2 linked regions of the Homo sapiens genome follow. The protein of the gene in region 2 purifies or fractionates together with the protein of the main gene of each other region. This does not show direct contact. Each region holds a gene or a part of one and is shown on either strand. Other genes may lie near its edges.

Evidence for each region.
Region 1: the proteins of TIGAR (region 2) and GLTP fractionate together in Homo sapiens (co-fractionation; one large-scale study listed by BioGRID). This does not show direct contact.

Annotation. Positions count from the first base shown.
Region 1 is NC_000012.12:109,870,365-109,874,182, forward strand, and holds part of GLTP (glycolipid transfer protein), read right to left. Parts: intron 1-3,818. UniProt on the Homo sapiens protein: Accelerates the intermembrane transfer of various glycolipids. Catalyzes the transfer of various glycosphingolipids between membranes but does not catalyze the transfer of phospholipids. May be involved in the intracellular translocation of glucosylceramides.
Region 2 is NC_000012.12:4,355,523-4,359,340, forward strand, and holds part of TIGAR (fructose-2,6-bisphosphatase TIGAR), read left to right. Parts: 3' UTR 1-3,818.

The sequences.
Region 1 (3,818 bases), about 110 Mb from region 2:
CTGAGGTAAGATAATTGCTTGAACCTAGGGGGAGGGTGGAGGTTGCAGTGAGCCGAGATCATGCCACTGCACTCCAGCCTTGGTGACAGAGCAAGACTCTGTCTCAAAAATAAAATAAAATAAAATAAAATAAAATAAAAAGAAGGTATTATCATTTATGCTTATTATTATAAATTATATCATCATCACCTTTCCCAACAGACAAAGCTTTTCTTTAGAGAGGAAATCCAGAAAACAATTATTCCAATGATTAAGAAATCAAAGCAGAAGGAGAGGAAGGAAGGGAGGAGGGAGAAAAAGAATTATTGACTCATTGATTGATTGTTAGGGGTAAAATTAGCAGAAATCTCCCCATCATAAAATAATGACTTCAAATGTATTCCAGACCATTAAGACAGAGATCTCAGAAGGGAGTGAAGTAAGGAACTTGGAGGAACAGCAAGGCAGAAAATGAATCATTTCTGAACACAGGGGAAGTGTGAGTCGACTGCCTAACTGCCAGGGTGGAAAGCAGAGGCTTCTAGAAGACCCTGGAGAGGGCTGATCCACTGCAATGACTTTGAAAAGCTCAGATACAGTTAACACTCTAGCAAGAACCACAAAAAAGGCCTCCATATAAGTACCACTGTAAGTACGTAATAAAAGGAGTTAACATTCACTCTGGCAGGTTTTTACTGAAACAATGAAACCTAAGACTAGGACCCAACATTTCCATTCTTTTTTTTTTTTTTTTTTTTTTCTGAGACGGACTCTCGCTCTGTCCCAGGCTGGAGTAGTGGCGTGATCTCGACTCACTGTAACCTCCGCCTCCTGGGTCAAGCGATTCTCCTGCCTCAGCCTTCAGAGTAGCTGGGATTACAGGATTGCGCCACCACACCTGGCCAATTTTTTTTTGTATTTTTAGTAGAGACAGGGTTTTACCATGTTGGCCAGGCTGGTCTCAAACTCCTGACCTCGTGATCTACCCGCTTCGGCCCCCCAAAGTGTTGGGATTACAGGCATGAGCCACTGCGCCCGGCCCCAATATTTCCATTCTAAGAAGCTCATTGAAATAATCACATTGTCATGCCAGCCGGGAACTTCCTATCATTTCCCCTCCTCCCCTACAAGGGACATTTCTGCCCTAGAGACGACTTCCAACGTCTTCCTGTTTCCTGATGTGGTGTTGGTCTCCCCTGTTACAGGGCTAGACCTGCTGTAAAGTCCTGTGGACCACTTCCTACCTTCATGACCTGATCAAATCGCTTCACCTCCCTGCACATTGGTTTCCTCTTCTGGAAAATGGTGCCAAATTCCTCCTAAGTTCATCATGAGGATTAGAAATGAGTTACTGCCTAATTCAATGGCATATCCTGGGAGCCACTCAAAATAGAGATGATGCTAGTTATGATCACGGTCATACGTTATATTTTATAAAGCCCTTTGTCATGAATTCCTCCCATTCCTTTTCACGTGGATATAGGCTGGGCGCCCATGCTGCAGAAGCCCATTGGTGGGTCCTGGGAGGGCCTGACTTCTGCCCCAAGGGATTCACAGTGGAGGGCTGTCCCTCCAAGCATCCCTGTGCAGCAGAGGAGGGGCAAGATGAGTTAGCAAGCAACTGTAGTCTCTCCCCTCCTACTCAATCCTCGTCCTTCTGGCAGCAGAGAGGCCAAACCTCAGGCTCTGACCTCAAGGGCCAGATTTTTCTGAACACAAAGATCTAATCACCACCATCCCAGGACCGGGTGGGCGGGTGCCACTGGTCTGTATGTACTCTGGCCTTTGGACATTATAAAGGAGGCTGCTGGAGCAATTGTCAGACTTAAGCAGCCATGCAGCTGGCTCTGTGCCCTGGCAGTCATTCACCAAGTCAGGCATTGATTTTGGTGCTCCTGCCTGGACTCACCACATCTTTCCAAAGGTAGGATGGATGGCCCTAGACCTTTAGGAAGTGGGCCTTTTGCCACACAGCTGTTGGGAAACGGAGCTGCCAAAAAGAAGCCACCTCGGGGCCTCTCAAGCTCAGGCTGGCTCAGATGGATGCCAGTCTCCGTGTTTCCTTCCACTCATCTGTCCACGGTGTTCAGGGCATGGATGTCAGAGGAAGAGAATCAGACTCAAAGTGACTTCTCCCCTCTGAGCCTCAAAAACAGCCGACTCATGGGCTGTTACACACATGGACAGAAAAACACAATAGGGCCCTCCATAGCCCTCCTTCCAGATTGTTCTCTGGCCAGGTGGGATCAAGAGTGGGACCCACCAGCACGGCACCAGCACACAGCAGGTGTTCCTGAAGGCTAAAAAAGCCTCACTTACTACTTGCAAATGCATCTCCGAAGTCTGCCAGCAGTTTCAAAATTGTACAGCCATTGCAGAAAGTGTCTCTCTGGCTTCTTCCTCCAACAAGACATTATTTGTTTCATCTTCTCAGGGTCCCTCCCAGGCACACAATCTAAATCACATTCCACTAGAATCCAGCTCTCAACAGTCAATCAAAATGATAACTCACCTGCTATATTAGGAGGGTTAATACAGTTTCTTGTCTTTCTTGGGATATTCTTCACCAACCTTGTCCAACCCGCAGACCGCAGGCTGCATGTGGCCCAGGACCGCTTTGAATGTGGCCCAATACAAATTCATAAACTTTCTTAAAACATTATGAGATTTGAGTTTTGTTTTGTTTTGTTTTGGTTTTTAGCTCCTCAGCTATCATTAGCGTTAGTGTATTTCATGTGTGGCCCAAGACAATTCTTCCAGTGTGGCCCTGGGAATCCAAAAAATTGTACACCCCTGTTCTATACAAAACCAAAAATAAACAGGTATTAGCATTAACTTTAAATTTAAAAAAAAAAAAGCAGAAAATATTGTAAGGCTGTGGTAGGTGGTCCCAAATCTCAGAGGATGCTTGTTGCAGTGGGGGAGCTTCTAACTCACAGATCAAGGGGTACAGGTGGGGCTGGTTCCCAGTTAGCCTGATGTCCCAGATGAAGGAAAAGCCAGAGCTGAGGCTGGGCGCGGTAGCTCACGCCTGTAATCCCAGCACTTTGGGAGGCTGACGTGGGTGGATCATGAGGTCAGGAGTTCAAGACCAGCCTAGCCAGCATGGTGAAACCCTGTCTCTAGTGAAAATACAAAAAATTAGCCGGGCATGGTGGTGCACATCTGTAATCCCAGCTACTGGGGAGGCTGAGCCAGGAGAATCACTTGAACCCAGGACGCAGAGGTTGCAGTGAGCCGAGATCGTGCCACTGCACTCCAGCCTGGGCAATAGAGCAAGACTCTGTCTCAAAAAAAAAAAAAAAAAAAAAAAGCAAGAGTTGAGCGCCGTGGCACACGCCTATAATCCCAACTACTTATGAGGCTGAGGCAGGAGGATCACTTGAGCCCAGGAGCTGGAGGCTGCAGTGAGCTGTGATCACCCCACTGCATGCCAGTCTGGGCGATGAAGCAAGACCTTGTCTCTTAAACAAAACACACACACACACACACACACAACCAGCCAACTTGTTTGGGGCTTTTCCCACAAGACGATTTCAACACTCCAGTCATTTTCTAATTTACATTCAAATAAACAGGAGTTATGGACCAGCTTGGCGGGCTGTTTATGAGTTACACACCTCAGAGCAAACCTGCATGTCTGGTCTGTGGCACCCACACCACTTGTCATGTGGACAAGTCACCATGGTGCCAGCAGAACCACTGGAATTCCTCAAGTACCCAACCAGGCTGGCTCCACTGGGGGTCTTCTCCTTTGCCAGAGAGAAAGCCAGGACAGCAGGCATGACAGCAAGAGCACCACATAAGGAGTCCAGAGGACTGAGTTCTAGTCTGGTGCA
Region 2 (3,818 bases):
CAATTTCCAGAAAAATTCTGTTACAAATTTTATTGGAGTCACATGCATCTCTTCATCTATTCAATACGTATTTTTTGAGCATGGCACACACATGCCAGGCTATTTTAAGAACTACTACAACTATGATAAAGCTGTGAATATGTAGCCATGAACCAAAACAAAGTCTCTGTCCTTGTGGAACATTTGTTCTGTCAGAGAAGACAGTGTGTTGGCTCACATTGTGGTCAGTGCTGTTGAGCAAAATAGGTCAGAGTAAGGGGGATGGAGACTGGTGGGAGGAATGCTGCTTTATCCAGGATGGGCAGGGAGGACTCGATGGTGTCAGCACTGAAGGATGTAAGATCTGCTGCTCTGGGGAGAGGAGCAGCATGGAAGGAGTAGAGTGCAGAGGCCATGAGGAAGGATCAGGCTTGACTCCTTTGAGCAAGGGGGATGGGAGAGTGACGGGAGAAGAGGACAGGCCACATGGCCTGGTGGCCTGTGCTGAGGCCTTGGGCTTTTACTCAAGTGAGATGAGATGCCATTGGCCAGTTTGGGCAGTGATGTGATCAGACTTGTTTCAGCAGGACCATCCTGCTTGCAATGTGGAGAGCAGGCTGTAGGGGGTGCTATAGGAGCACAAGGTTGGAGGCAGGGAAGATGGCAGCACTGGCTGTTGGGCCATTTGAAGAAGCAAGGCCAGGGATGTTGGCAGGGACCAGGCCAGAGTGCCTCCAATGGCTAACTAAGGAGCCTGGACATTGAATTTCTAGGTTAGCTTAGGATTTCTCATCCTCCCATCTGTGAATGTCATAGATCTCTCATTTTGCCTGAGTCTTTTATGCAATGATATTTTATTTGTAATATTTTCCCGGTTTTTGATTGTTTTTTAACAAATGAATTTTTTAAGAGACTTAATTTTTTAAGAGAAACTTTAATTTCCCAGCAAAAGTGAGAGGAAGGTAGAGAGATTTCCCATCTATCCCCTGCCCCTACACACGCATTGCTTCTCCTACTATCAACATCCCCCACCAGACCAGTGCATCTGTTACCATCGGTGAGCCCACATTACACTGACATATCCACATCACCTGAAACCCATAGTTTACATTAGGGTTCATTCTTGGTGTTGCATGATCTGTGGGTTTGGACAAACGTATGAAGACATGTATTCCACCATTATAGTATCATGCAGAGTATTTTCACTGCCCTAAAAGTCCTCTGTGTTCCCTGTACTCATCTTTCCCACCTTGTCTTGCCTGTTTCTGTTAGGTTTAGTCCGAGGCCTAGCAGAGGGAATGGGCAGAAGTTTCCAGTTCCAGGCTTCACCCCAGGCTCGCAGCTTCAAGCAGAGCCTGTCGCTTAGGCTCCCTTGCACCTGGAGTCGAAACCATGGCTCCCATTCACCTGTCTCTTATTTTCCTGTCCTTCCCACTCCTCACTCACCTACTATTCATTTCCATTTTTGGATGAGGATTCTCCTTTATTGCTTTTTAACTAAAAACCTGTTTTAGTTAGCATCTTTATTCTAATTTCTTTAAATGCTATGTCATACTCAGCAAGGACATGCTCATATTAGGGGAAGCACATAAAGTAAGATATCCCTGAGAGAACAGTGCATCTCACACCCATTCCATGGCTTAGGCTTATGCAGGAAGTGCAATATTTGGCCATATCACTTAAGTACATATGCTTATATTATGTATACTTGCATGCATATTACATTTACAAGTAGATGAATTCGTGTAAGTTAAATGGTTCTATTATATGTCTTCACTATATTAAGGTCAGTCACAATTTAATTGAAATAGATCATCCTAGGTGAATCCACCTGGCATAATTATCAGCCCTGTTAAGCACAGACACAGGAGATGCAAAGGAAAGAAGTATTCAGTAGAGCGGTGGTGCTGGGCTGAGTACCTGCTATCAGACGCAGCACTTACCAGTTTGGAAATTGAATGGGGCTCCTAGAAAACATCCTTGTTTCATGTAAATGTTGCTTTTTACCCCTCTTTCTTTGGGCCCCATCAATTTGGAAGTACAGCTTTCAGATTGAAGTATGTGTCAGTTCCTTTGTGTCCAAACAAGATGGCTAAGTAGGTCGTCATGACAGGTAACTACCAGTGCTTTAAAAACTTTAGGATTTCCCCCCACAGTTCTCAATCACTTGGTTCATTGTTCAGCAATATGGCCTAAGGGGGTGATTTCTTCATTGATAAGTGACAGGGCAGGGACACTGGAAAGATCTATTGTCAGAAGGCCTGGATTCAGGTTCAAGGCCTGGTTCTTAGTAATTTTGTGACCAAGCAATCGCTGAGGTGGCTGGGCGTGGTGGCTCGCACCTGTAATCCCAGCACTTTGGGAGGCCAAGGCGGGCAGATCACGAGGTCAGGAGATAGAGACCATCCTGGCTAACACAGTGAAACCTCGTCTCCACTGAAAAATAGAAAAAATTAGCCAGGCCTGGTGGCCGGCGCCTGTAGTCCCAGCTACTTGGGAGGCTGAGGCAGTAGAATGGCGTGAACCCGGGAGGTGGAGCTTGCAGTGAGCCAAGGTCGCGCCACTGCACTGCAGCCTGGGTGACAGAGCAAGACTGGGTCTCAAAAAAAAAAAAAAAAAATCATTTGATAAATAATGGGCTGTGCATGGTGACTCAGGCCTGTAATCCCAGCACTTTGGGAGGCCAAGGTGGGTGGATTACCTGAGGTCAGGAGTTCAAGACCAGCCTGGCCAACATGGTGAAACCCTGTCTTTACTAAAAATACAAAAATTAGCTGGGCGTCTCCAAAAAAAAAAAAAAAGAAAAAGAAAAATCACTGAGCTACTGTATCCTCATAGAGAATAATTACAGTAATGTGTATGTGCGTGTGTTTTGGTAATCTTTTATCTTGGATTTATCAAACCTACAGAAAAGTTGCAAGAACAGTAGAAGGAATGGCTGTATACTCTTCACACTTATTCACCACTTGCTTACCTGTTGTCCCACTTGCTTTGCCATTTTTTCTCTCTCCCTCTGTTTTCCCCTGAAACATTGGAGAGTAACTTTGAGTCCTCATACTCTTCCCCTATAAAATTTCAATGTGTGTTTCCTGAGATCAACAATGTTCTTATATATAACCCAGAATAAATATCTGAGTCAGGAAATTTGACATTGATATTGCCTATTAGCTAATCCTTAGACCAAATTTAAATTCTGTCAATTATTTTGTTGATGTACCTGTGGCTTTTTTTTTTTTTCTGAATCAAGAATCCAATCAATCCAGGACTGTGTGTTGTGTTGCATTTAGTTGTCATGTTTCTTCATGTCCTTCCGTCTACTCCTTTGCCTTCCTTTGCCCTTCTTTTTTTCTCCCACCATCTATCTAACCAGATGAACTTTGTCTTTCTTGATCTTGTTACTTTTTAAAAAATAGGTGAGTTCTTGTGGTTTTTTTTCCTGACATATCCTCATTATTAGATTTGGATTGTATACTTTTGTCAGAAGCAGCCCAGAAAGGATGTGTCCTTGGTCATGTCAGGAGGGACAGGACGTTGTATCAATATGTCTGGTTCCTCATTAAATTTGCAACTACTCTTTTAGCCTTTATTGTTTATTTTCTGACTCTGTTTTTTTTTTCTTTAGCCAACTCACGCCATGACTCTACTTTTGCTTCTATGTTTATTAGTTGGCATTCTGTACTAAGACAGCTTTACCCTTCTTGCCTACTTATTTATGTCAGTATGAGCTCAGAAGTTCTTATTCAGGGGCTTATAATACAGTACTCTTATTATTTTATGGTTACACAGTCCCAACTTTGTCCTGTGGGAACCCTTTCAGGCTGGCTCTTATGTTCTGGTGA